Regions from separate parts of the Homo sapiens genome. Here region 1 is linked to region 2. Evidence: fine-mapped expression QTL. A gene starts in region 2. The other region holds a variant in brackets. All regions are shown on one strand. Distances are from middle to middle.

Region 1 (12,780 bases), 38 kb before region 2:
CCTAGTTTGTTGAGGATTTTTGTTCATAAGGCGATGTTGAAATTTATCAAATGCTTTTTAGCATCTATTGAAATGATCATATGGTTTTTGTTTTTGGTTCTGTTAATGTAATGTGTTACAGTTATTGATTTGCATATGTTGAATTATTCTTGTATTTCTGGGCTGAATACCACTTGATCATCGTGAATGATGTTTTTAATGTTGTATCAGTCTGTTTCTTTGTTTTGTTTTGTTGCATTGCAATAAAGAAATACCTAAAGCTGGGTCATTTATAAGGTAAAAGATTAATTGGATTATGGTTCTGCCGGCTGTACAGGAAGTATGGCACTGGCATCTGCTCCTGGTGAGGGCCTCAGGAAGCTTCCGGTCATGGTGGAAGGCAAAGAGGGAGCAGGTGCCTCACATGGCAAGAGTGGGAGTGAGAGAGAAAAGTGGGAGATCCCTGACTGTTTTTAACAACCAGATATTGAGAGAACTAACTGAGCAAGAACTTACTCCTCACCAGAGTGAGGGCACTAAGCCATTCAGGAAGAATCCACCCTATGATCAATACCTCCCACTATACCCCGCCTCCAACAATAGAGGTCACATTTCACCATGAGATTTGGGGGGAACACATGTCCAAACATTATCAAATGTGTTGCTGGATTTGGATTGCTAGTATTTTGTTGAGGATTTGTGCATCTGTGTTCATCAATGATACTGACCTGTAGTTTTCTTTTTTTGTTGCATCTGTGTCTGGTTTTGGTATCAGGGTAATGCTCACCTTGTAGAATGATTTTGGAAATATTCCGTCCTCTTCAATTTTTTGGAAGAGTTGAGTAGAATTGGTATTAGTTCTTTAAATGCTTGATAGAATTCATCAGTGAAGCCATCGGATCCTAGGCTTTTCTTTGATGGGAGTTTTTTTTGTTATGGTTTTGATCTTGTTGCTTATTTTTTTGTTGTTACTGTTGCTGAAGTTTTCTACTCCTTTATGTTTCAATCTTAGTAAGCTGTATGTTTACCAGAATTTACCCATTTCTTCCAGGTTTTCCAGTCTGTGGGTGTACAGTTCTTCATAATAGTCTCTAATGGTTCTTTGTATTTCTGTGGTCTGAGTTATTATGTTTCCTTTTTCTTCTCTGATTTTACTTATTTGGGTAATCTCTCTTTTTTTAATTAATCTAGCTAAAGGTTTGTCAATTTTGTTTATCTTTTCAAAAGAACAAAACTGAGACTAAAAAACACAATCTAGCATATCAACAAAAAAGTTGTATTTTTTTTTAAAGATAAACAAAATTGACAAATCTTTAGCTAGACTAAACAAAGGTAGACTCTCGTCTCTACCTGGCCCATCTTCCTAGTACAGGTTGAGCATCCCTAATTTGAAATCCTATATCTGAAATGCTTCAAAATCTGAAATACTCCTAAATCCAAAATGTTTTGAGTGCCAACATGATGCCACAAGTAGAAAAGTCAACACCTGACCTCATGTGATAAATGCACAAAATTATTTAAAATATTGAATAAAATTACCTTCAGGCTTTGTGTATAAGATATATATGAAACATAAATGAATTTTGTGTTTAGACTTGGGACTCAACCACAGATATCCATTCTATGTATATATATGCAAATATTCCAAAACGCAAACATTCAAAAAATCCTTCTTATTTTCTCTATTCAAATCACAATGACCATCCTTTTCTCAAAACTCTTTATATTTCATATTGTCTATTAAGACTTTCTCCATTAAGAATATCAAGCCCTTGCCACCCCACTTACCCAGGAACCCCTCTGCCCCTCATATTGCAAGCTTCTTTCCTAGCTTTGTTATCACTGGGGCTGAAATGTTTTACATAATGGATCAGAATCAAAAAGCAGAGAAGACCTTGGTATAGGGCAAGAGAAAGAGGTGGAAGCAATCAGGAAAGAGGTCAGGGAATGAAGAAGACTTCAGTTGCTTCTCAATTCACTGTAAGGAGTTTTGTTTTGTTTTGTTTTAACCCATGAAGACTCTTTATGCACTCAGGATCGAAAAAAAAACCATAAAGAGGAAGAATTTGAGGAAAGATCATTCCAATTAAAACAGTCTAACTAGGATTAAAAGAGGCACTTTTAACACATGGAGTAGAATGGAAACTGCCCCTACAGGGCATTTTTAGTATTCCTATAAGGTTTAAAGTTGTCCTTCAGTCCGGTACATAGATTGAATCTCGGCTCAACTCCCAGAACCAACACCCATTCTCACAAAGTCCATGGTCTATAGGAGAATATCCTTAGGCCTGTCTTTGCTCATCTTATCACCAGAGTCTTAAGAGTTTACTGAGCTCAATATGCTTTCTTTAAGTCCTACTTCTCAGGTCATCTTTAGTTTCTCAGAAAACCACGAAATGCTTACCTATAGGCAATAAGAACAATGTGGCTGCCTTGCCTTTAACTTCTTCTCGGCCCTGCCTGCCATTCTGATCCCATTATAATAAAATCTATTACAGAAATCCCTTTCAGCATCTCTTATATTTAAAAGCAGTTACTGTGTTGCCTGCCAGCCAAGTAGAATGTCATAAAGGCCACTATCAAAGAAGGTAAAATGATAAAACAACATCCACAATAGAAAAGGAAAAACTAATGAGCCACTGACCTTAATACATTTATGTATCCCAGGGTTAGTTACGTGAAAATCCTTGAAACTTCTTTGAGTTATTAAAGAGACAATTTATTGGTTGAGTCATTAAGCCTTTTTAAAATACTCTTGGGGGGCAACATAGTTACTATGTCTTGGAATTTTATCCAGATTGCAAAAGAGCATCAGGGTTGAATATGAAATATCAGGATGTCTCAATAGGGATAAACCCAGCACAGAAAATATGAAGGTGGGGATGGTCAGAGAACCAGGCCACAGGTGGTATCAAGCAGGCTGTCAGCAAGTAGCCAAGCCCAGCCATGTTTTTTTGAAACTCTCAGCCAAGACTCTAATCACTGGCAGGGTGCATTAGTTAAGCCTTTTGCAAAATTGAAGATACATAAAATTCAATGCAAATTTGTTTAAGCAAAGTAGAAAATAAACTGGCTCGGAGTTGGCTTAAGACATGGCTGCATGAAAGGACCCAAATGATGTTACCAAATATTCTCCATCTGTCCTCCTCTGCTTGGCTCTACTCTCCTCTGTATATTGGCTTCATTTTTTAACAGTTACCTTCAATGTCACAGAAATGGTTGCTGAAGCTCTAGATCATGCAGCTTCTTCTATCTTAGCCTGCATAAACTAAAGCACGGGTTTCTTGGTAGATCCTACAAAAGTGCTCTCCTTCTGACTCTGATAGAACCTGCCTGTGTCACATGCCTAGCCTTAAACCAATGACAAGGGCTTGTGAAACATGAATGACAGAACTGGGTCATGTGTTCCATCCCTGCAAGTGGGGAAGGCATGGGATGCAGTTACTGAAGAAGGCAAAGTGGGTAAGTGACACCTATAAATACTCCTGGGCCCCAGTGCTGGGAGAGTGAGTATATGGACAAAAAAAAAAAAAAAAGATAGGAGCACCCAGAAGAGCAGAAGACAAAAATCATTTTGTCAAAATTTTCCACAAGATTGAAGCCTAGTTATTACAATAGTGACAAAAAGTCAACAGCAGAGTAACAGCAAGAAGTGATTTAGGTAAAACTCCAAAACTCCATGATGTAAAGGTCAGGATCTGTCTTAGTTTCTCGTAAAGGTATGGTCATGTACCCGATTTATGGCAAGAGGAGCACTTCAGAGGCAGGCCTTATATTCTTCTGCTGAAGACTCAAACTGGGTCCCAAGTAAGAAAGATTAGCTTCATCCAGTTTACTTAAATTTCTTGTCAATGAATATGAGGACACAGTGCCCAGCCATTCAGTTTTTATGACCCATGGAAAAGTCATTCTGAAGAAAGCAATGGTTCCATGCAAGTTCATGAAATTGTAAAATCTTTGCAAATTCTGCCCAAACTACAAGATAATGAATAAACAAATTAAACCAAGCATAGGAGAGCAACTGAATGCCTCAATTTGGATTCTGAATGTGTGTCTTATCCCAATTCCTACCCAAAGATGCAAATCAAAAGCTTGAGAGAAAAGGGCACTCAGTAACTGGCCTTGTGTGTGTCAGCTGGGGGCTGTCTAATAGATGATGACAGCCTAACCCCCCTCCTGGACAGCATCATGACAGGTCTGGATACTTGAAATCATCAGCTTCCAGAGGTGAGGCTCCAAGCAGCTATTGCCAGGCATGAGCAAAACACAGACTCATGTGCAGCAAGCAGCATGCTACACCCCAAGAGCGTCAACTGAATGGGACAGGGAAGGGGGTGAGTTGTGTTCAGATCCTGATTCCCACACTAAGCTCGAATCTATCATAAGCAAGTACATACTTACTGCCAGCAGAGCTTTCAAGAGCGCTGTCAGAGAGTTTTGTTTTCCAGAGCTCTTCCCACCTGGACCTTCTGTCCTTGTTGGAACAGATTCTCTAACTCTCCATGGGATAAGGCAGGTCCTTATTCCAACCAGTCACAGCTGATTGCACTTCATCCCACAGTTCTACATGGAATATCTGAATAACAAACTTATGTTTAATTTAGTATTCTCATTCTAACTAGATTTGGTTTTATATACCTAGATTGGTTTGAAAAATAGAGTAGTCTTACCTTAAATCTGAGTATGATCTAAGAATGTGCTAACATTCCTTGTCCAAATATCAATTTCCTGCCATGCTTAAAGTTGGATCTGTTTCCAAAATCCCTTGTAAATTTAAATTATTTAGTACATTTATTGATTAAAACATTAAAGCATGTATTGACATTTAATATGAATGAGTTTACGTGTTATACCACCAAATAGGTAGCATATTCATTCAAGAGAGAAACAGAAAATTAAATAACTTTTGCACCTGCACAGCACTTGGAGAAGGGCCAGTGACTTTCCTTACTCCTTACCTGAACCCATGTGACCACCATCTGCATTCTCTGCTTTATTCTGGGTTCTGGAATCAATCTCCTTCTTAGACAGGGTAACTGTTGTAAGCTACGCAGGCCAGTACTGAAGGGTCAGCATCAAATCACACTTGCTGTTAGTCCCACTCCAACCCAATCAAGTAAGCAGCCTTCCAAAAACTATACCCAGGCTGGATCCCATACCCCTGACTGAATCTCTAGGTAAGCAATATGTCCTATGCCTTGATTCCTCTAGACTAGAAGCCCTGTCCTCTTCTTGCCAGTCACTTCCCCAGTTCCTGGGGACTCAGTTTTTCTACCATAAATCAGACCTCCTTGCAGCTCTTCAAATGCTTCCTCCCAGACACCTCATTGTTTGCTCCACCTCTCTGTCAGTATAATCTTCTTACCTCTTTTAGACAGCCCGATGCCTCTGACTTGCTAAGAAACCACTTGCATCCACTTACCAATTACAATATGCTATAGGATATGTTTCATCCACCTGGTTTACCTTTCTTGCTCCCCTAAAGGGTGGCCAGGGCCTGCCCTACCTATGGCTGTGAACTCTGCCTTTCCTGGCCACTTCACTACATACAGCTCATTTTGTATATAGCAGGTACTCACCAATGGC[A/G]TTTGTTTGTTTTGTTTTGGTATCTTGAAATAATTAGTTGAAAATGAGAAAATGGTCATCTCATTCTTAGCCCGAATGTGCAGTATTTCCAAATACCTGAAGCCAAGCATTATTTTCCTTTTCAGACAACAGAAAAACATATTAGTTAATTTCTTGTGCCAACACTAAATTTTCCCATCATGCAGATCAGCATTCTTAAGCTTTGCCACTGAAAAAGCCTTTGCTTCAGAGGACATTATTCCTGTGTCAGACTTGCTTCCCGACATGCTGAAAGTCCCTTTGAATTCAAATGTTTTATCCTAAAAATAAAGATTTAGTTTCTACCTCATAATATATACTTTTTTGCATTTTAAAATACTTAATTACTTACCCTCAAGTAGAGTTGTAGCTACTTCAAGAATGTGGATTCCATTTATTCTGTGGTTTCATACATCCCTTCATACATATTTCTGTTTCCACAGCATGTACTCATGCCTTAGGCTGATAATCCCTGTAGAATGAGATTAATATTCTTTTCAGAAGAAAATCTTATGATCTATTGGAATGAACATAAATATAATTGACAAAGTCTGCCTCCTTTTGCCTCCTTAAAAAAAATAGCATATTTTCTCTTACTCCATGTCCTCTATGAAACAGGACAGTTATATTTCCCTAAGAATGCTATGAAGTTGAAAAGCTTCCTTCTGTTGAAGTTTCTAAAGGAAAATAGCTATTCTTGGCTACCTCAAATAAAATGAAATATGTGATGTTATTTTTATTCCTAACTTTACTGAAAACGCATTAAATCCATGTACTAATTTTGGACCTACATCCCTATCTATAATTAGTAGTAGTAATATCAATACAGGCTTTTTAAAGCTTTTTAAAAATATTTAATCTTTGGCTCCTACCTTACAGAGGAAAAAAATTTAAACATGATATATTTGAAGTAAAAGTCAACTTTACTGACAGATTAAAACACTTTTTGAAGCCCATTAATTAGAAAATTTTTATGTCAATTAAGATCTTTGAACAGATAATATAGTCCAAAAATGTTACTTTAATGGGAATTTGATGAACCTTTACACAGAAGACTTAAAACAAAACAAATGTCAATTGCTCTGGGAGTGTAGTTCTTTAAAAATGAATAGACAATTTCTATTACACAGTAAAGTTTTACAAAACTGTAGCATGAAAAGAAGTATTACAATTTGGTGGAGTGGGAAGAAAGGCAGGCTAGCAATCAGAATGTCACATTTCACAATTCAAGAGATCATAGTCCTGGAGATTCCTCCAGTCCTTGTTGGCCTTACCATGTCCTTGAGCACTGGATATAACCCTCTTTGCAGGAAAAGGAGAAGAGAGAAAAAAAGGCCTCTTTGAAAAGCAGTAGTAAAGGAGTCCCTGGAGTATTTCTGAGCTCTTGAAACAAGCTTCATGGCAACAGCTTGATTCTGCTTCGTGCTTCGGTGAAGGATGCTGAAATAGGAATTGGGAGTGAAGCACTGAACTATTTGCAAGTTCATGTTAAAATATGATTTCCCGGTTCAAGAATAAAATTGATTCAGAATTAAATCAAAATAGTGATTTAAAGGTTCCCTACAAAAGAACTCGGTGCATTAAATAAGCACCAACCACCTTTGTTCTTACAAGTAGTCTCATGCAGGAAGATGTAGAGAAGATTCCATCATCTCCAATGTTGGAGAGAGAAAAATGTCTGCAGAATACAGTATCTCACCAATGGTCATAATACCGATGTCATTAAAAGTTACATATGGAAATTTCTTCTCAGGTCAGTATCCAATCATCCATATTATACCACTTACAGTTTATTTTTAAATTTTAATAAATCAGTATAATGCCTTCTTTACTGTTATAAAATTCCTTTCTCATTCCAAAGTACATACCCTAAAAACAAACAAGCCTGAAAAACAGACAATGGGGTGAGTGGCGGGGGGGGAATGTATAATGTATAAAATAGTATAAATTTCTTTGTGTCAAATATTTCATACAGATACTACCTGTATCTGTCTTTAGGCACTTTTAATGTGTGGCTCTGTGTTCTCTTATTCACTTCTCAGTTCCCATCAATTGTAAGACACAGCAACTTAACAACACCTTTTGGGGGAATGGATACACAATTAAATTTAAAACTAACTGATAAATACTAAACAACTAGTAACCCTTTTATTCTTCAGTATCAAGATCAGTTCGATCAGTAATAAAACTCCTAATGTGAAAATGAACAGAAAACCATTCATAAAGAGCAGTGTGGATATTTTATATATAAATTAGCTCTGTCTCACTTATAATAAAAATAAATCTAGAAGATGCGTTTTACATTTAAAAAGTCAGTTTGAGTAGAAATGCCCTTCCATTTCAAAAGTCTAAAGATTCTTCATCATCACTTTTGGCCATCATACCATCATGATGCCACACTTTTTAAGCCATACTTTCAAATCTTTTTCTATATAGCAACTTTAGTATTGATAGTATAATTCCAAGTGTTTACTCTGCGCTTCTTATGTGATCACAATTGTTGGGTTTTTTTAATTTCCTTATTGAATTAGTTACTAAAAGTCAAACAACTTCTCTTGACTGTCACCTGGAAGCTGATGATGATGGTGGATATTCAGTGACAGCTCTTCATAAAATATGAATTGTTCCTGAAAACTGTCCTAGCTTGTGATTAAAAAAAAAAAAGAAGAAGCTTTATCCACAAGTGGTAATTTCCACCACCTAATTCTATTGCCTGGGATTGGACAGTCATCTGCATTCATGTTCTTATTCAGTGCTACACCATGGTATGACATTTTCAAAGGTATTTACATGGCACATGGTGTTATAAGTACCAGTAACATAGCTGAGGGACCATAAAATTAACTGATACCTTCTGTGCATGAAAAAGTTCATATATTCACAGAAAATGTGCCCTAAGTTTTAGTCCTCTTATTGTTAGCTAGGTAATTTATTTTGATATTAATAAAATATAATAGAAAGTCTCAGTTCCAGGAACTACTCTGAAACATAGACCTAAGAGGAATTCACAGGGGCATTACACAAAGTGACAGCATTTTGCTAATGGACTGTTAGCCATAGATACCCTCTACGGAAGACTGACTGGCCTCTATCTGGCAAAGTTTTTCTTGTTGTTGTTTGTTTGTTTGTTTTTTAGGGGGTGCAATAGACGGATTTCTAAGGCAGCCTCTTAAAAATGCCCTGCCCTACCCCCCAGAAACTGTGACTACAGGATATCACACACGAGTATGTTTGTTACATGACAAAAGGGACTTTGCAGATGTAATGAAGGCCACTTGTCAGTTGACTTTAAGATGGGAAGATTATACTGGTTTATCTTGGTAGGCACAATATAATCACATGAGCCCTTAAAACCAGACAACGTTTTCTGGCTTATGACAGGGAGGAAGGCAAAGGGAAAGTCAGAAAGAGTCAGAGCAGAGGAAGAATTCAGTGTAACACTGCTGGATGAAAGATGGAGGGGGCCACATGAGAAGGGACTCAGGGGGCCCTTGTAGCAGACAGTGGACCCTAGCTGACAGCCAGTAAGGAAATGGGAATCTCAGTTCCACACTGCAAAAAAAAAAAAAAAAAAAAGATTCTGCCAACAATCTGAATAGGCTTGGAAACTGATTCATCCCCAGAACCTCTCAGAAAGAGTCCAGCCTGACGGAAACCTTGATCTGGCCCTTGGGAGACCCTGAGCAGAGAACCCTATTAAACCTACAAAGATTCTGACATACAGAACTGTGGGTGTTGTTTTAAGCCAGAGTGTTTGTGATCATTTGTTGCCGCAGCAGGAGGAAACTAGCACAGGCAGACTGCACATGGAGCAGGAGGAGAGGATGGAGACTGTAGTCCAGACAGCCTGAAAAGATAGTGTAGTCCAGTTGATCGAGGGGATGATTGGTGTCCTAGCTGTTTCACCTCTACCTACCAGACATAGAGGTAACAACATAACCTGTGAGATATGCATGTGAACCATCAGAGTATAGCTATCTATATATATAATTAAGGTTTTGTAGGGTTTCTCTTTTTAGGAAAGAAGTATAAGCAGTTGTTCTTACAAATCCGAATTTTAAGTGATATTATTTTTTAAAAAGAATTATTCCTCATCTAGAACTTCAGAAGTCAAAAAACCTTAAGATCCACATCAAAATGGTTTTAACGGTGTTTTTGCCTAACTCAGTAAACATAAAATTCAACATATCATACATCATGCCAGGCATTTTCCCACTTTCTCAATGATTTCTGTCGATTCAGTTTACTCATACCTACATTTTTCACCCAAAACAACTATTCCCTTTTCTAAAAGAGTGGACATCTGCTCACCTCAAAAACAACTATTCCCTTTTCTAAAAGAGGGGACATCTGTTCTTATTCAACCAGTATTGATTAAATGACCCTATTAGATGCCAAAACATTCTACTATTAATAAAAACTGATCGAAGCTGAACAAGATATAATCCCTTCTTTCAAGGAGATTCAAGAGATCTAGTATGGAGGACGTAAAACAAGAAAATATTCACTTACTAAGCTATCACAGGTCTAAAGAAGAAACCTAGAAACTGGAAACTGGATGATAAATAACTTGTGGAGGTTTAAAGTGTCACAGTGCAGAGACAGAATGTGAAGCCTTGTCATAGCTGTATATTTAAGTTTTTAGTTCACCTTTAAAACTTTTCTCTAGATATACAAATCATGACAGATGTGATGAATAAATTCCACAAGTGAAAAACACAGGTGAGGAAAATACCAAGTGTTATAATTTCATCTATAAACAGCTCAGTCTAATCAAGAGACAAAATGGTCAGAAAGCATTTGATCTGTTTTTTTTTCTTGATATTATTAGTTCTATAGCTAATACAATGTTTTCAGAGCTGGGGTTTATTTTTCTGACTTGTGTTATTAATTTGTTAGTATAAATTTGCACCTGTCAACACAGATTTACAGCAATGGAACTACCTACCACAAACATTATAGGCTTCAAGGACACTCAGTTAAGAGCTTGAAACACTTAAATTGCTTTAACACTTGCTACTATATTTCAGTTTTACTTATATGAAAACATAAATAGCTAGAGTCCTGATAGAAGAAAAAATTATTTTGGTAATACTTCTGATTTTCCTCCCGATTTTTCTTTCGAATTCCAAGGTTATTTTCATCTGTGAATCACTGCTTCCAAAACCAAATAATGATGATAGTAACTCTGCCCACATGGGGATATGGCAGGAAACAGGGCTAAATTTCACTTCCTACCATAGAGCAGTTCAAACGCAAAAACATTTGTATGCTTTGAAGTCATACCAACTCAGATCCTTTGCAGAATTTTTTTAGTAAATGCACTAAAAAGGGAAAATTTAAAAGGGGATTCATGTGCTTGGAATTGAACTGTGACATTAACTGAAAATATGAAATGATTCCTGCCCACAAGAAGTATTCAAGGTAGTTGACAGTAGAACAATACACTGAGTTTGACTGTAGGGACTACCTTCCATTCCCACTGCTCCTCATCTAATCCAGGCCTTCATCATCTCTTGCCAGGACAACTGCAAAAGTCTCTCAACTGCCCACCTGTCTACTACTCAAACACCTTTCAAATAGTATCCATCCCTGCTGTATACAGACTTAATCAAAATTCTTTGTTTGGATTATATTGCTTCCCTGATTAAAAGCATTTGATGGCATAGAAATGAATAAAATTCAAACTCAGTAAGCACTAAAGAAACCTATTTCCTGCCTTCTTCCCAACTCTCTCTCTCTCTAGCCTCTTCTCTTTAACCCCCTAGTCCTGCCATTTTAATGCATGATCCAACCAATCTTAGCTTTTTTGCCTTTATGCACCACACCTGGCTGTTTCATACCTCCAATGCCTTCTTGTTGCCTGGAGTGTTTTCTCTTCCACTCCCACACACTCTTACCCCAGTCTCCACAGGTAGAAGAGACCATCTCCTCCTTTGTGTTGCCTCGGTATCCTCCATAGACTTCCTTCCATCAGACCTTTGTCATCCAGGCTGGAGTGCAGTGGTGCCATCACAGCTCAGAGTAATCTCAAACTTCTGGGCTCAAGTGATCCTCCCGTCTCGGCCTCCTGAGTAGTTGGGACTACAGGCATGCACCACCACTATGTTTGGCTAATTGTTTCATCTGTTAAAATCTGTTGAGCAAACAAGGTCTCACTATGTTATCCAGGCTATTCTTGAACTCCTAGGCATAAGTGATTCTCCTACCTCTGCCTCCTAAATTGCTAGGATTATAGGCGTGAGCCACTATGCCCCGCCACCATCAGACCTCTTATAATGGATTTGGAGATACCTTTCTTTTCAGGTCTATACTCTATATTAACCTACAATAAGGCAGGGGTCATGTCTTCTTCTTTGTATCTCTCAGAACTGTCTAACTGTCTTCAAGGACATTAAAACATTGCTAGAAATAGAAAACCCATATATGAAACAACTACAAATACAAACAAACAGTATAAAAAGAAATGTTAAAGTATATGTATCATGCTCTGTCCACATTGAAAGTTCTATGAAGTCACAAGGTATGGTAGAAAGAGTTTTAGTGTTAGACAGACGTGAATTCACATCCTGACTCTTCCACCTCCCAGGTGTGTGAGCATACATACCTCAGCTAATTTCCCAATAGTGCCCACCTCACTGAGTAGCTGTGTAAACATTAGATGAGATGTGACAATCCATCACAGTAGTTGCTAAGAAAATACCTATTCTCATACCACTTCACTGAGAAGGGAGAGTGACTATATGTACCAAATTACTCAAGTATAACTGCTTAAAGTAGGTGAGATTTGAGCTTGACCTTGAATAGAAAGAAGAATTTGGACAGATAGATTTTTATACAAACTGCCATCCATATGGAGAAATCACTGTAAAGAAGGCAGCTGACCTGCTTAAAACTCTTCCCAGATGTACCTAAGACCCAGCTTTCAGATGCTCTATCACTCCCACAACTCATCTCTCAGAGCAATGTGAGAGTCATTATACATGAACGCAATCCAGCTTCAAAACTCCTTCGTAAATTAGAGAGAAAATGTAAAATAGTAGTAATGGTATTTAGAAAAGATTCATTATTTAATGAAAGAATGTTCCTAAAAATGATATTGAGCTGTTCACTTGTTTGCACAGAAGTACACATTAGACTAACAGACATCAGAGCTGGCACGACAATATCTACCAACATTCAAGCAAACACAGGGTA
Region 2 (12,780 bases):
GGGTACCTGGTAGATCTAAAAGTCCAAGGACTGCACAAGCATGAATCGGATGGCCAGTCTTCCTGGGCAGCTACCATAGCCATAGTCCTTCAGTTGCACCTGGGAAACGATGTAATGGTGTAAATGCAGGGACCAGGAAACATGATTATATTACTTGGCAAACAGGTTTCTCAGGCATGTAGTCATTGTAATGTAAGCAGTAACCTCTGAAAGAACGTTTTTTTCCTTCAAAAATGTTTCCGTTTGTATTTATTCAGGAATTGAAAATATGAACATTTCACTTAGGACCACCTCAGATGATAAACATTTCTGGAAATTTTATTAACATTTGAAGCATTACTGTTAGAACAAACCAAATAATTAAATGGCAGAAGGTATATTACATCAGATCTGCTCATGCAGATTTTCAGGTAATCAAAACTCACTTTCAAACATTTTTTAAAAAATCAATGGATAAAGCAGAGAAGTCATTTCCTCTGAAAAAATTAGGCTTATATCTCTTCATGGGACTGAAGCTGGGCACTGTCATATGAATAAATAAGATCAATAATGGTACATCCATAAACAGCCACTCCTGGAATTTCAAGACCTTAGAAAATGTTGTAAACAGACACACAAACACAAACACAACACACACACACACACACACAAACACACATACGGTATTGAAATAAATATTTAAGCCATGCCTGCAAAGCCTTCAGCAACAGAGTTCATAATGGAAATGATAGACCTTTAATGATAGAAACATTAGCAGACCGTGTAAGAATATTGTAAATCATTTCTAAGTAACAATATTGATAAGACAAGCCTTTCAAAACCACCCAGGACACCTCTTTAGCTAATTAAAACCAGAGAGTGGCTATGGCTCTTTTGTCATTCACAATATTGTAGCTCTGATCATCCCACAGTGAATGATTTTACTTCAGTAATAACCCTGATCCAACATTCAGTTAGCAATTACCACATCAGACTTTATCTACTGGTAACAACTAGTTCGGAAGATATTGCCCTGCATGCATTAATTTCATCATGCTAATAAAGTTCCCTGTTATAAAATGCAAAAACATATTAACCTGTCTAATGCAATATAAGAAACATATATATCTTTCTTGCAAAATGATACACCAGCATTTCGTTTCTATTTCAAGACTTAAGTGGGTAAAGTATATTAGAACAGAAAGTAACAAGCTATAATCTTCAGTGAACACAATAACATAAATAAGTGCCAAAAAATTTTCCTGTAATTGCAGCTATTGTAATTTGTAAACATTCTATTACCTTGGAATTTGCATAACAATGCAAGACTGCTCATTTCTAAACACTGAACACTGAAATAGAAGTATATCCATCTCGTCTTTTCTGCAAAATTCAGGGAGGCCACTGCTGGCTCCAGTTAACTCTCTTGGAGCACCTAGCACATGTGGACCGATGGAAACATTTAATAAAGACGCAGACGTGACTGAAAATGACCAGCCAGGATCTCCAGGACACAATCTCTGTCATAGAGCAAGAAATCTATAAGGACTTGTTGAATGAAGTAGGAGGGGAGCTCTATTGTTTTACTCAAGAGTAATAAGCTCTATTTATAGGTCCAGGATCTATCCTGGAGACCCTTTTCCCTTCCGCCCTCCTTTTGCCCTCCTGAGCTTGTACAGGTACCATCTCTATGTCTAAGTGAGGAATTCAAAGCAGGGATGCCTCATTTTCCCCTTGATTAGCACCCCTCACCTCTACTTCACTAACTTTCGTGTCCTACATTGATGATGGGACAAATTGGCATGGTCTATTTCTTCCCCTTCAACCCCAAGTTCCCTACTGGCTTGTTCTGCTTTCAGAATATTAAATGTGAAGAGCTTACTAATTGTTAAAATCTCAGTGGAAAAATGAGTCATGTGACTAAAACTAATATGTGGCCTTTCTCTCTTCTGTCTCCAAGGACTCATCCAAAACTGTCAACTCTTTATTAAAGCAACGCCTTGACTTTCTAGAGAAAATGACTTCACGGTGTTACTGCCAACCGTGGGAAGCCCAGTCATTCTAACGAATTTTTTTAAGTGTCTGCAGCTTAATTAAACCCTAAGCAAATTAAACACATCACCCTCTTCTGCAGGTAAAGCAGAACGTTCATATACCCACTGTTGGGGCAGTTCAATGCATCTGTACACAAAGAGCCTGGCCTCTTCCCTGGAACACTGGTCAAAGGAAAGCATTGTACAAGCTAAAGCCCATCCCCATTCAGCACCTGGGGGTTTGTCCACACCAACCAGGCAGGATTGCTCAGCTCTCTAGGGAAATGTGGCATTCACACATACAATATAGTACTGGCTGGAGGCCTAGCAAACAGTCACAGAAGTGCGGAGGATTTATAGACTGAAAATGAGCACATAGACAGCAGCTCCGAGTTCTCTCAGAAAACATGTGTGCGGCGACTGAACTGTGGGAGGCCTATGTGGGGCCCCCAGAGCTTGGCAGAACCTCTAGTGGGGACCCAGTGTGTATGTGAACATATCAGAGCTATAAATCTGGTAACAAACACTCCTTTGTGACCTTATGAAGATTGTGAAAGACAAAGGCATTTTAAGATTGCAATGTCAGGAAAGAGGGAGGCCATTTGGAAAGCTGACTTTCATATTGCTGATTCTCAACTGCTTCTAGGCTTCTTGGGTATACGTAGAAAAAGCCAGAGTGGGGCTTCACCTACAGCCCCACAAGACAGCTATGTCCACAAGGCATGACCTTCTGGAGAGAGCCGCACCTCTGAAGGTGAACACATTAATTTGATGACAGTTTCTTGTTCAGTTCAAAACACTGGCCAAGGACATCCCTTTAAAATTTATAATGAAACTAAAAAAAAATTATCCAGCCAAAATTTTACCCCATTTCATTAAATTTTATAGTCTTCATTAATTACAGGGTCATACTCAGAAAGCAACAAGTAGGCTACAAGAAGGAAACAGGGGTGGAGGTGGCAGAGCCCAGTAGACAATTAATTGACTGTACTTTGCAATTCAGGACAAAACATTTTATTTACTTGTCCCAACACATACTTAGCCTGCCCTCTGGGCTTTCATAGCTCTTTCATTCTGGAATCCAATTCCAGAGTTTATGGCCTCCAAGGTTTATGGTCCTTCCCAAGGAAGCTCTCTTCACCTATTAATATGCATCATGGTTCTTCTTCTCAGAAGGGTGGTTCTTGTGAAAGCTAAGCAATTTTTATGTAATACACACCTGAATGGGAACTTTACAATGGATTTGGGTAAGACTTTTGTTTTTTGGTGTCAGTTTTACCTGTCGTTATTAAAGAGGTAAAGAAGAAAGAGGGGAAAGGAAGAGATAAAAATAATCCTACTGTAATTTTCATATCAAATAGAGTCCCCTATTGCTTGTCTTGTGGTTTCTGGGCAGACTATTGGTCTGAAATTCTAGACCATTAACAGTTCATTTGTCTATACTTAATTTTACAATGACACCAGAAAGAACAGCAAAAATAACAATGAAGAAAACTCACAGGCCTATTGCTCTGAAACTAAAGTTGCCAGTCATTTTATTTCCCAGCATTTCTCAAGCCCATTTCTTCATTCACCAGCAACTCACCCACCATTATTAGAGAGGATTTTTTACCACCCAGGAAAGCAAATGCTGTCATCCTGATTTTACTGCTCAGAAGATACTTGTCAATTAAAATCACCTCCAGGTCTTAGCTAGGAACAAAGACCAAATTCCAGAGATTCCCCTTGTCTTTCCCAAAATAGAGTTAGAGCTCATTTCCTAAATTTGTTCTGCCATTTACATTTGGCCACACTGCAACTTGTAGACATGGGGTTACTATTCACATATTAAAACTTGCTTATTTCCAAATAAACATCTGTAACTTTAAATGCTCATATAGCCACTATATAGATTTAACTAATTCTAAGATATATCTTATATCTTATGTAAGATATATCTTGAGTAAGCATATTAAACAAATGCCTTTTCAAGTAAGAACTATTTTCATTGCTGCCTTCTGGTTTCTGAGTCATCTCTGTCTCACTCTTATAACTACATGTCTCCCAAAAGCCACCTAGTACCATAACATACGTATATATTTATAAAATGCTAGTAACATTTCATTCCTGCCTCTTTGATATGAAGGTCTTGGAAATACATGTTTTCTCTGGACTGCTGTTTTTAACAATAATAGAAAGAAAGGAGTAATAACAATCATGGCAAATATTCCTTGAGTTTTCATAATGTACCAGGCACTGAGCTAAGCATCTTTCAACATACACAATCTCACTTAATTCTTAATACTCCTGTCTAGAAGGTAGGTACTATTATGATTATTACTATTTTTTACAGAGGAATAAACTAAGGCATTTGCCTGTGTTCCAGGGATAGCCAAGGATTCAAACTTACATCTTTCCAGTTTCAGCATCCAAGCTCTAAACTGCTATATACCAGGGCATAGAAATAGGACTACCAGCCATAGCTTTGATTCAGAGGAAAAAAAAAAACAAAAACATGGCACAAATGTGTATAACATATTTAGATAGTATAGTTTAAAACTACAAATATTTTTTCTCTTTGCCAGTATAATACATGCATAATTTGTGAATTAAAACTTAATTGAGCGCACCACAATTGGAAAATTACAAAATACTTAAAACTTACATCAATTCAGCCTCCATTCCATTATCAAGAGAGAGGCTGTTTATGCATTCCTATTCTGGCAATTAAGGACAACTATGTTTTCTAAAGTGAAGGTTATTTTGACTTTGATAAGTATATAGCTCACTGTCTGATCATAAAGGGCCAGAGCTGAAGATGAATAACAGAGTACTTTGTCCTTCACTTCAGGCATGATGGCTGGACCTCTGTGGTTGTAAATCTTCCAATATTTGATGGCCACAGTGTCAGCAGCAAAATGATGCATAATAAACACAACAATACATTATATGCCACTTCTTGATTTGGTGCCAAGTCAGGGAAGGAAACAGTCTACTTTTGAATGGGTGTTCTGAAATAATACATAGACAGTGTGTATTGGAGAGATCTGAAGAGGAAAACTCAAGCTGGTTTTTCATCCCACAGTCTCCAAACTATTATTCTTTGAAACTGACTATCTGGAGTGATGTGAACCCCTCTACCACCACTGTTGGGTTGATATCAGGAAGCACAGAGTCCACAGGCTTTCATCTAGCCAGGAAAAAGGAAACAGAGCTTATTTTGAACAGGAAGGAAAAAAGATATGTGATGAAAGTCAAAGAAACAAGCTGCCTAAATCCTTGACAAAGTAGAGATGAAAGGAATGAGCTTGTGAAATAATGTGGATACCTAAAAATCATGTTTCAATCATGTTTTTAATTGTCCATTCTATCCAGAACGTTTGTTGCAAAGTCTAAAACCTTCCTTTACAATGAAAAGAGAAAATACCGTTCTAAGGCATGCATCTATAAAACGGTATTTCTCAGGCACTAAGGAAAATGCAAGCTCTAGAAAAGGAGTGATGTGGGAGAGGCACACATGGCTTCAACTGTGACAGCTGTCTCCCCATGCAACCAAATCAGAGACTGCTGGTGCAAGTGGGGACCTCAGAAGTCACTGGGTCCAACCCTGACTTTTTATAGATGACAGGCTTAAAACTGTTAAGTAACGTGCCCAAGGTCATGCTTGGGGTTGTATTGTCTGAATAACAAATGGCAAATGGACAAAAACAAAAGAGATCATAGTCTAAGTTACTCAAAGACTTTCTATAAGGAAAATGGTGGTAATTATGGTCCCTAAGTCCACTTATCTACCAAAGCTTAATATAAGACATCCAAGAAATATATATAGATACATATATAATCTATATATGTATGATTGTGTGTGTATACATATATGTATAGATATGTATATGTGTGTGTATATATATATATATACACACACACACATTTCCTAAAGCAGGAATTTTTTTTTTAAATCAGATATTCTGTGAGACATACTTGCTTTATTCAGTATCAGTTTAGGGTTTCTCACTCAGTTGTTCTTTCTAGAAAGGATATTTGTAAAGTCCAGGATTTATTCTCAAGGAGTAAAAGCAAAACCAAACATTTGTGTCCCTTTCATTTGAATCTCATGTCGAGTCTGTAAGTGCAAAAGCACTTACATATCAGTCAACCAAATTCTTACTGTCAAATCTAGATGTACAGAGCTTGCAATAGAGAAATGTAGATACTTTCTAGTTTCTCTGCATTCTACCATCTTACCCCAGGAGCTCAAAAATGACTCTACCCTTTTCTGGAAAATAGTACAAAGGAAAATTCCTGGGTTGTTTGGCTTCTCATAGTCCCAGAACTTGGGCTATATCTGAAAGTTCCAGTTGACATCTGTCCAGCACTGAACACTGGCTCCAATTCACAAGATGGCCTACCCAAGACTAATCTCCATCTACAAGTACCCTTGGAAGATGGGATGGACTCCATACAGGCCAGAGGCTGTGCATGCTCCCTGCAAATCTTGGAACTTCACCCAGGAAACATTAAGGTGGACATTCAAAATGGTAAAAAGACTCCTTCTGGCCTAAGCATCCCCTCACACACCTCTCAATGCCATAACTTACCCATAAAACAATCAGAGTTCAAGACGATAATTATTTCCCTAAGGCCAAGTTCACTATGATCTGGTCTCCAAGAACTTCTCGTTATTATCAACTACTGTGGGCCAATCCCAACTATATAATCTTTATAAGTGTTATATTCATTCATATTTCTATAAGTAATATATCTTCTTATTGCCTGCACCCTGGGCAAATTGCCTTCATATTTCCCACTCCCACCCCAGCCTGGAGAAATAGGCAACATTCAAATTGTTCTCTCAGCCCTCATCCCTCTAATGATCACCAACAAAATCCTACCTGCAACCAGGACTCTCACTTCGGAGTATAGTTTCTGAGATAAATCAAAATTTTTCTTCTCCTTCTTCCCATCCTTTCTTGGTCTTCATTTCATACAGATAATAGCATGTAGAAAAAACATGAAAGGAAAAGTGATATTCACTGAAGAGCAACTCAAGGCATATGTGTGGACACAGGGAGAGGCAACCCCTCCCAATCGGGTGGGTGTGGGTGATAGGTCATGTGTGTATAACCTCAGATCTTTGTTAGCACCAGCAGCTGGAACACACTTCTCTCTACAAATAGCAGGCTCCTGGAGTTTCTCAGCATCAGCAACAAGAGAACCTGTCAAAGAAGTGGGCCGGAGATATCGCCCTGCTTCTCATACACATAACTGAAAAAAAAGCAAAAGAAAAATATCATTTCACTGCCAGCCTAGTTTGAGTCTATATATATATATATATATATATATATATATAGTATATATATATATATATATATATACTATATATATATATATATATATATATATATATAGACTCATATATATATATATGGGGGGCAATTATGTGTACCGGACTACAGTACTGGCCAGACCCCATGAACACCTAAGGATGAATGAGGCCCAGCCCCGCCCTCACGGATATAACAATTTAGACAGAAAGATTTACATAAACGTTCATATGACTAGCTACAAATTCCTAAGCCAATGTCCAAATTAATGTACCAAGAACAACCCTAAAATAGAATAATTTTTATTTTTTCTTTTAAATAAATATTCCACGTGAAAGCTATCTATTTCAAAACACTTGCCATAATAAGGCAACACATTCTAATTCACAGTTCTGTTTTTCAAGTTTTGAATCTCATTGTAACTGCTTTCTGAGTAGTTGCGCAAGGAGGGGGGAAAACAGGAGTGGGGAAGGGAGGAGTATTTTCTCCCTAAAATTGTTTAGAATTATAGACTTGTGATGGTAATACAAAAGACACTGTATCTTAATCAGTTCTATTTCTTTAAACATTTCTATAGACAATATATCTTCTTATTGCCTGCACCCTGGGTAAACTGCCTTCATATCCCCCGCTGCCCAGCCTCTGCCTGCCACTGTTTCTGAAGGGTGTATTCATCCCAATAGGCTCAATGATGTCCAATCTATTCTTTTCACCAGATGCAGAGTCAAATCTAATGAATAAAACAGAGGGTCAAGCCTGGCAATACTACTATAGGGCAGAAAGCAAGTATGGCTTTACACTGAGAGTGTGGTTGTCAAATGCTGCCCCTGACAGCAATACCACCAGAAGAATCACTTCAATGTTTTAAGCAAAAACAGAATTGTTGAAATAGGTGTATAATCTCCTATGTTAATCTAGGCAGACCATGAACAAAAGACTGCAAAATCTCAGTGATACAATGCAAAAAAAAAAAAAATCAATTTCTCACCCCTGCTGTATTTTTCACATGGATTATCACAAGGACTCTACTCCTTGTGATATCGCACAGGTCTAGGCTGACACAAGCCCCATCTCAACATTTGCTTCCATGATGGTGGTGGCAGTGTAAGTGGATCTTTTAAAGCTTTCTCCTGGGAGTGACACAAGTCACGTCTGCTCACATTCCATTAGTTAAATAAAGTCACATGGCATACCCAACTTCCACAGTGTTGGAGGAGTAGAACCGTGCCAGGTTTTTGGCAGGAGAAAGGCCAGAATATTGGTGGGTAGCCTCTGACTAACGCCTCCCATGTATTATCATTCCTTAAAGAGGCCAAGAATCATTTGCATGTAAATTTTGGAAAATTAGTTTTAAAAAACATCCTCACTATTATATGGTCACTACCATGTGTTAGATTTCTTTACATGCCAGAGCTACAACACAGTTGAAGAAGCCATTTATTTTTATTTTTATTTATTTATTTTTTTACCCAGGCTGGAGAGCAGTGTTTTCATCTGGGCTCACTGCAACCTCCGCCTCCCAGTCTCAAGCAATTCTGCTGCCTCAGCCTCGAGGTACCTGGGACTACAGGTACACACCAATACGCCTGGCTAATTTTTTTTTTTTTTTTTTTTTTGGTTGAGCTGAGATTTTGCCATATTGCCCAGGCTATTCTTGGACTCCTAGGCTCGAGTGATCCACCCACCTTGGCCTCCCAAAGTGCTAGGATTACAGGCGGAAGCCACCACACCCAGCCTCAAGAAGCCATCTTAATGCTTGTGGTTCACTTGTAAGGTGCAGGCAGGTTTGTGAGAGGCATCTGTATGACTGACAGGGGATGCAGCGTGGCATAAAGGAGGTAGGAAGGAAGCTGCCATTCCAGGTGGACTCACCTGTGCCAAGCACTGCTTTACACTGTACACACAGTATCTCATTTACTCATCCCAACAGCCCTGCAAGGTAGGTGTCACTATCCTCATTTAAAAACTGACAGAAATGGAGACATAGCTTAAAATACACTGTGCCAGCCAATGTCATGGGTAATAATGTTCAAACTCAGATCTGCCTAGTTCCAGAAGCCATGGAGTGGGTCACGTGAGGAAGTCCAAATGATACAAATTCCCTTATTACTTTATCTGCATCCCTTTTATAGCCCTTCTAATGAGGCAACTGATTTTAAAATGAGAATGTGCTAAGCTCTCTAAGAATAGGGACTTAGCTCCATTCATCTTTGTCTGACTGGTAATGACTAGCAAATACTCTAGCACATAGTAGGTGCTCAAGAAAATATTAATTGTTAAATGCATGTTGAAAGTCAAGGCTATGCTCCAAAGCAATATTCCCTTTCTCTTCTCCTGCACAGCACATGAAAGGAGATTGACAAGATGAAATGTTTCCTTAGTGATTCTCAAGAAAGGCAAAGCTGTCAACATTTTCTTTTGTCAAGAGTGTTCACTAAGCAAGAAAATAGAGAGTAGCTCCCACAACGCAGACCTGAACGTGAAGATAATGGTCAGCAGGGCTCTGCAAGCTGTCTGAGTTCCCACTCCCAATAAGCTTTCGATAGGAACTTGCCTGCCAGAGAAACAGAGGGAACCTCATTTTGCTAGGAGACAACACACAGCTGCATAGTTCCATACTCCGCTTAATCCCAGAGACAAATTCACAAGTTGTCCTAAATGTATCACTCTACTGGGAACTCTTTTTTCTTTTCTATTTCCAACCAGTGTCTGCCATTTGATATATCACAAATAAATCATGTTTCTCTCTGTCTGTCTGACACACACACACACACACACACACACACACACACAGGCACACACAGAAATACACACACAACCTTTCTATCTTAAAAAGGTTACATTCATTTTGGGTCTCCTCTAAAACTGCCATGCAGGCCACTGGAAGTCACAACATGATATTGTTTCTTTACAAAGATACTATGATTTTCTCCTGTGGTGAAGGATTACTGCGGGCACAGCTCCATCCAAGAATCCTTTCTAAGCTTTTTCTTTTAAGCACATAAGCTATGCTTTTAATTGGGCATTTCATTAGAGTAGAATGAGGCGTAAAGGAAAACAAAATGGTCTGTAGTCATTTGTTTCAAGGAGATCATTCCAGTCATCAACGTCTGAACCCTGCCGAAGTCGTTTCAATTTTTCTTCTCAACCATGGATAAAGCAATGTTGACAACACATATTTCTCTCTGTCAAAACATTCCACTTACTTGGCAATCTATAGACAGTTTGAGAGTCGTAGCACCAACAAGCAGCGCTGGAGCATTCTTCCTATTATTTTAAAATCAAAATGGCACGTGCCTCGTGAGAGGGTTACCATGTGGGCCGAGATCCAAATTGAAAAGAAAAACGCTAACAGAGTCAGCAAGTAAACAGGGCACTGTAAATAACAAGCCTCATTACTTAGCCACAGAGAAAGATGGGCCAGCCTGCGTCCCATTTCATTGTGAGGGCTTGATCCTGTTGCCCTTAGATTTCAGTCTCCTGGGAGGCCACTCCGGGATTTCTGTGAGATGTGTGCTCAGTTAAAGTACCAAGCTTAGGTTCACAATTGTGAAACATGTTTCATACCATGGGATCTAAGTAAATGATGATTTTTGGCTGGGAGTGAGCAGAGGAAAAAGTAAAATCACTGGTTAAAGAATTGTATCCAAATACCAGAGAAAGATGGGCCCTCTAGATGTGCCTTACATAGGACAAAGAACGGGAGACCAAAATTAGACACACACTGACAAAACTGCTTATGGATCCCACAGATGACTATGGTGTAATCATCTCAAAGTGACTCATTTTCAGTGAGAAATATTTAAAAGAAATAATGCTGGAGAAAATGGCAACGTGCTGCCCAATAATGGCCTCAGGCTGCAAGATAGATACTGCAGGGCATCCAGGCCACAGCACTGGCAGAAAACAAACATTGAAGCAAAGCTGAAACACTTATTGTCAAGGCCAGAGAACATTTACCAGTCAGGAGGTTCAGATTCATGGGCATTATTGTTAAAGCTCGTGGGAGAAATACACCCAAAAAGCAGCAAAGAGAGTCGATAAAAACCCTCCAAGCAATCACCAGCTCACCAATCGGCAGCCACACATCTCCCCAGGCTCTCAGGGGAGAAGGCACTTTACCAATTACTGCTGATTGGCTGGGTTAGTGAAATTGCTCAGACCTCCTACCATTCACCTCCAGCCTATCTTTCAATATATCTTGCTGGGGTTTGCTGAACTTATTTTCATCCATTTATAAAAGGTCAACTAGGCTATGTGTTGACTTGACAGTAGTAAGTGCTTCTCCTATAATCCCTGATGATATTAGTCTGGCGGGGTTTCACAAGTGTGCGGTTGATCTTTCTTAAAAAATTCCATGATTTGCGAAGTTGGTACCAGCTGTTATCACTTTAATAGAGATCACTGTATAATTTCAAAATATCTTACTTTCTCTAAAACTATTCTGATGCTCAAAACTGTCTGGAGCTCAGAAATGTGCTTCTTGCTTCTGTCTCTTAAATGGATGGGTTAATTAACTGCAGTCATCATGCCATTAAGCTGGGCTATGACCCAGGGATCAGGCTTTACCAAAGCCGCTGCGTTCCGGAATGTTCCTATAGACACACACAGGTATGGACAAGGGGGTATGTGATGATTAATATTGAGTGTCAACTTGACTGAAGGATGCAAAGTATTGTTCAAGATGTGGTTTCATTGCTTGAGCAAATTAACACATCTCCTGGTACCTGGTATGCAGCCATTGATTTGGCAAATGACTTTTTCTCCATGCCTGTCCATAAGGCCCACCAGAAGCAATTCGCCTTCAGCTGACAAAGCCAGCAATATATCTTTGCTGTCCTACCTCAGGGGTATATCAACTCTCTGGCTTTGTGTCATAATCTTGTTTGGAGAGAACTTGATCACTTTTCCCTTCCACAAGATATCACACTGGTCCATTACATTGATGACATTACGCTGATTGGACCCAGTGAGCAAGAAGTAGGAAACACACTGGACTTACTGGTGAAATATTTGCTTGCCAGACGATGGAAAATAAATCCGAATAAACTTCAGGGAGCTTCTACCTCAGCAAAATTTCTAGGGGTCCAGTGGTGTGGGGCCTGTCCAGATATTCCTTCTAAGGTGAAGGATAAGTTGCTGCATTTAGCCCCTCCTACAACCAAGAAAGGGGCCCAACGCCTAGTGGGCCTATTCGGATTTTGGAAAAAACACATTCCTCATTTAGGTGTGTTACTCTGGCCCATTTATCAAGTGACCTGAAAGGCTTCCAGTTTTGACTGGGGTCCAGAACAGAAGAAGGCTCTGCAGCAGGTCCAGGCTGCTGTGTGAGCTGCTCTGCTACTTGGGCCATATGATCCAGCAGATCCAATGGGACTTGAGGTGTCAGTGCCAAATAGGGATGTTGTTTGGAACCTTTGGTAGGCCACCATAGGTGAATCATAGCAGATATCTCTAGGATTTTGGAT

Direction of the effects. Positions count from the first base shown, and alleles are read on the strand shown. Sizes are in standard deviations (SD) of each study's normalised expression.
For the expression in atrial appendage of the gene that starts at base 7,077 in region 2, A is the low allele of the variant in region 1 and G is the other (moderate effect, 0.40 SD a copy in GTEx).

Evidence for each region. PIP is the estimated chance that this variant, and not a neighbour inherited with it, causes the effect.
Region 1: its variant is fine-mapped to the expression of LINC02208 in atrial appendage (GTEx, PIP above 0.99).

The regions. Positions count from the first base shown.
Region 1 is chr5:118,516,792-118,529,571 of GRCh38, forward strand. LINC02208 (long intergenic non-protein coding RNA 2208) reads right to left here. Exons shown (of 10, transcript NR_104610.1): 2 at 6,858-7,023; 3 at 4,381-6,055. Among named protein-coding and RNA genes, the nearest start is that of LINC02208, 39 kb to the right of the region's middle. The variant A/G (reference allele first, on the strand shown) is at 5,566.
Region 2 is chr5:118,555,041-118,567,820 of GRCh38, forward strand. It overlaps LINC02208 (long intergenic non-protein coding RNA 2208), which reads right to left and starts at 7,077. Exons shown (of 10, transcript NR_104610.1): 1 at 6,881-7,077.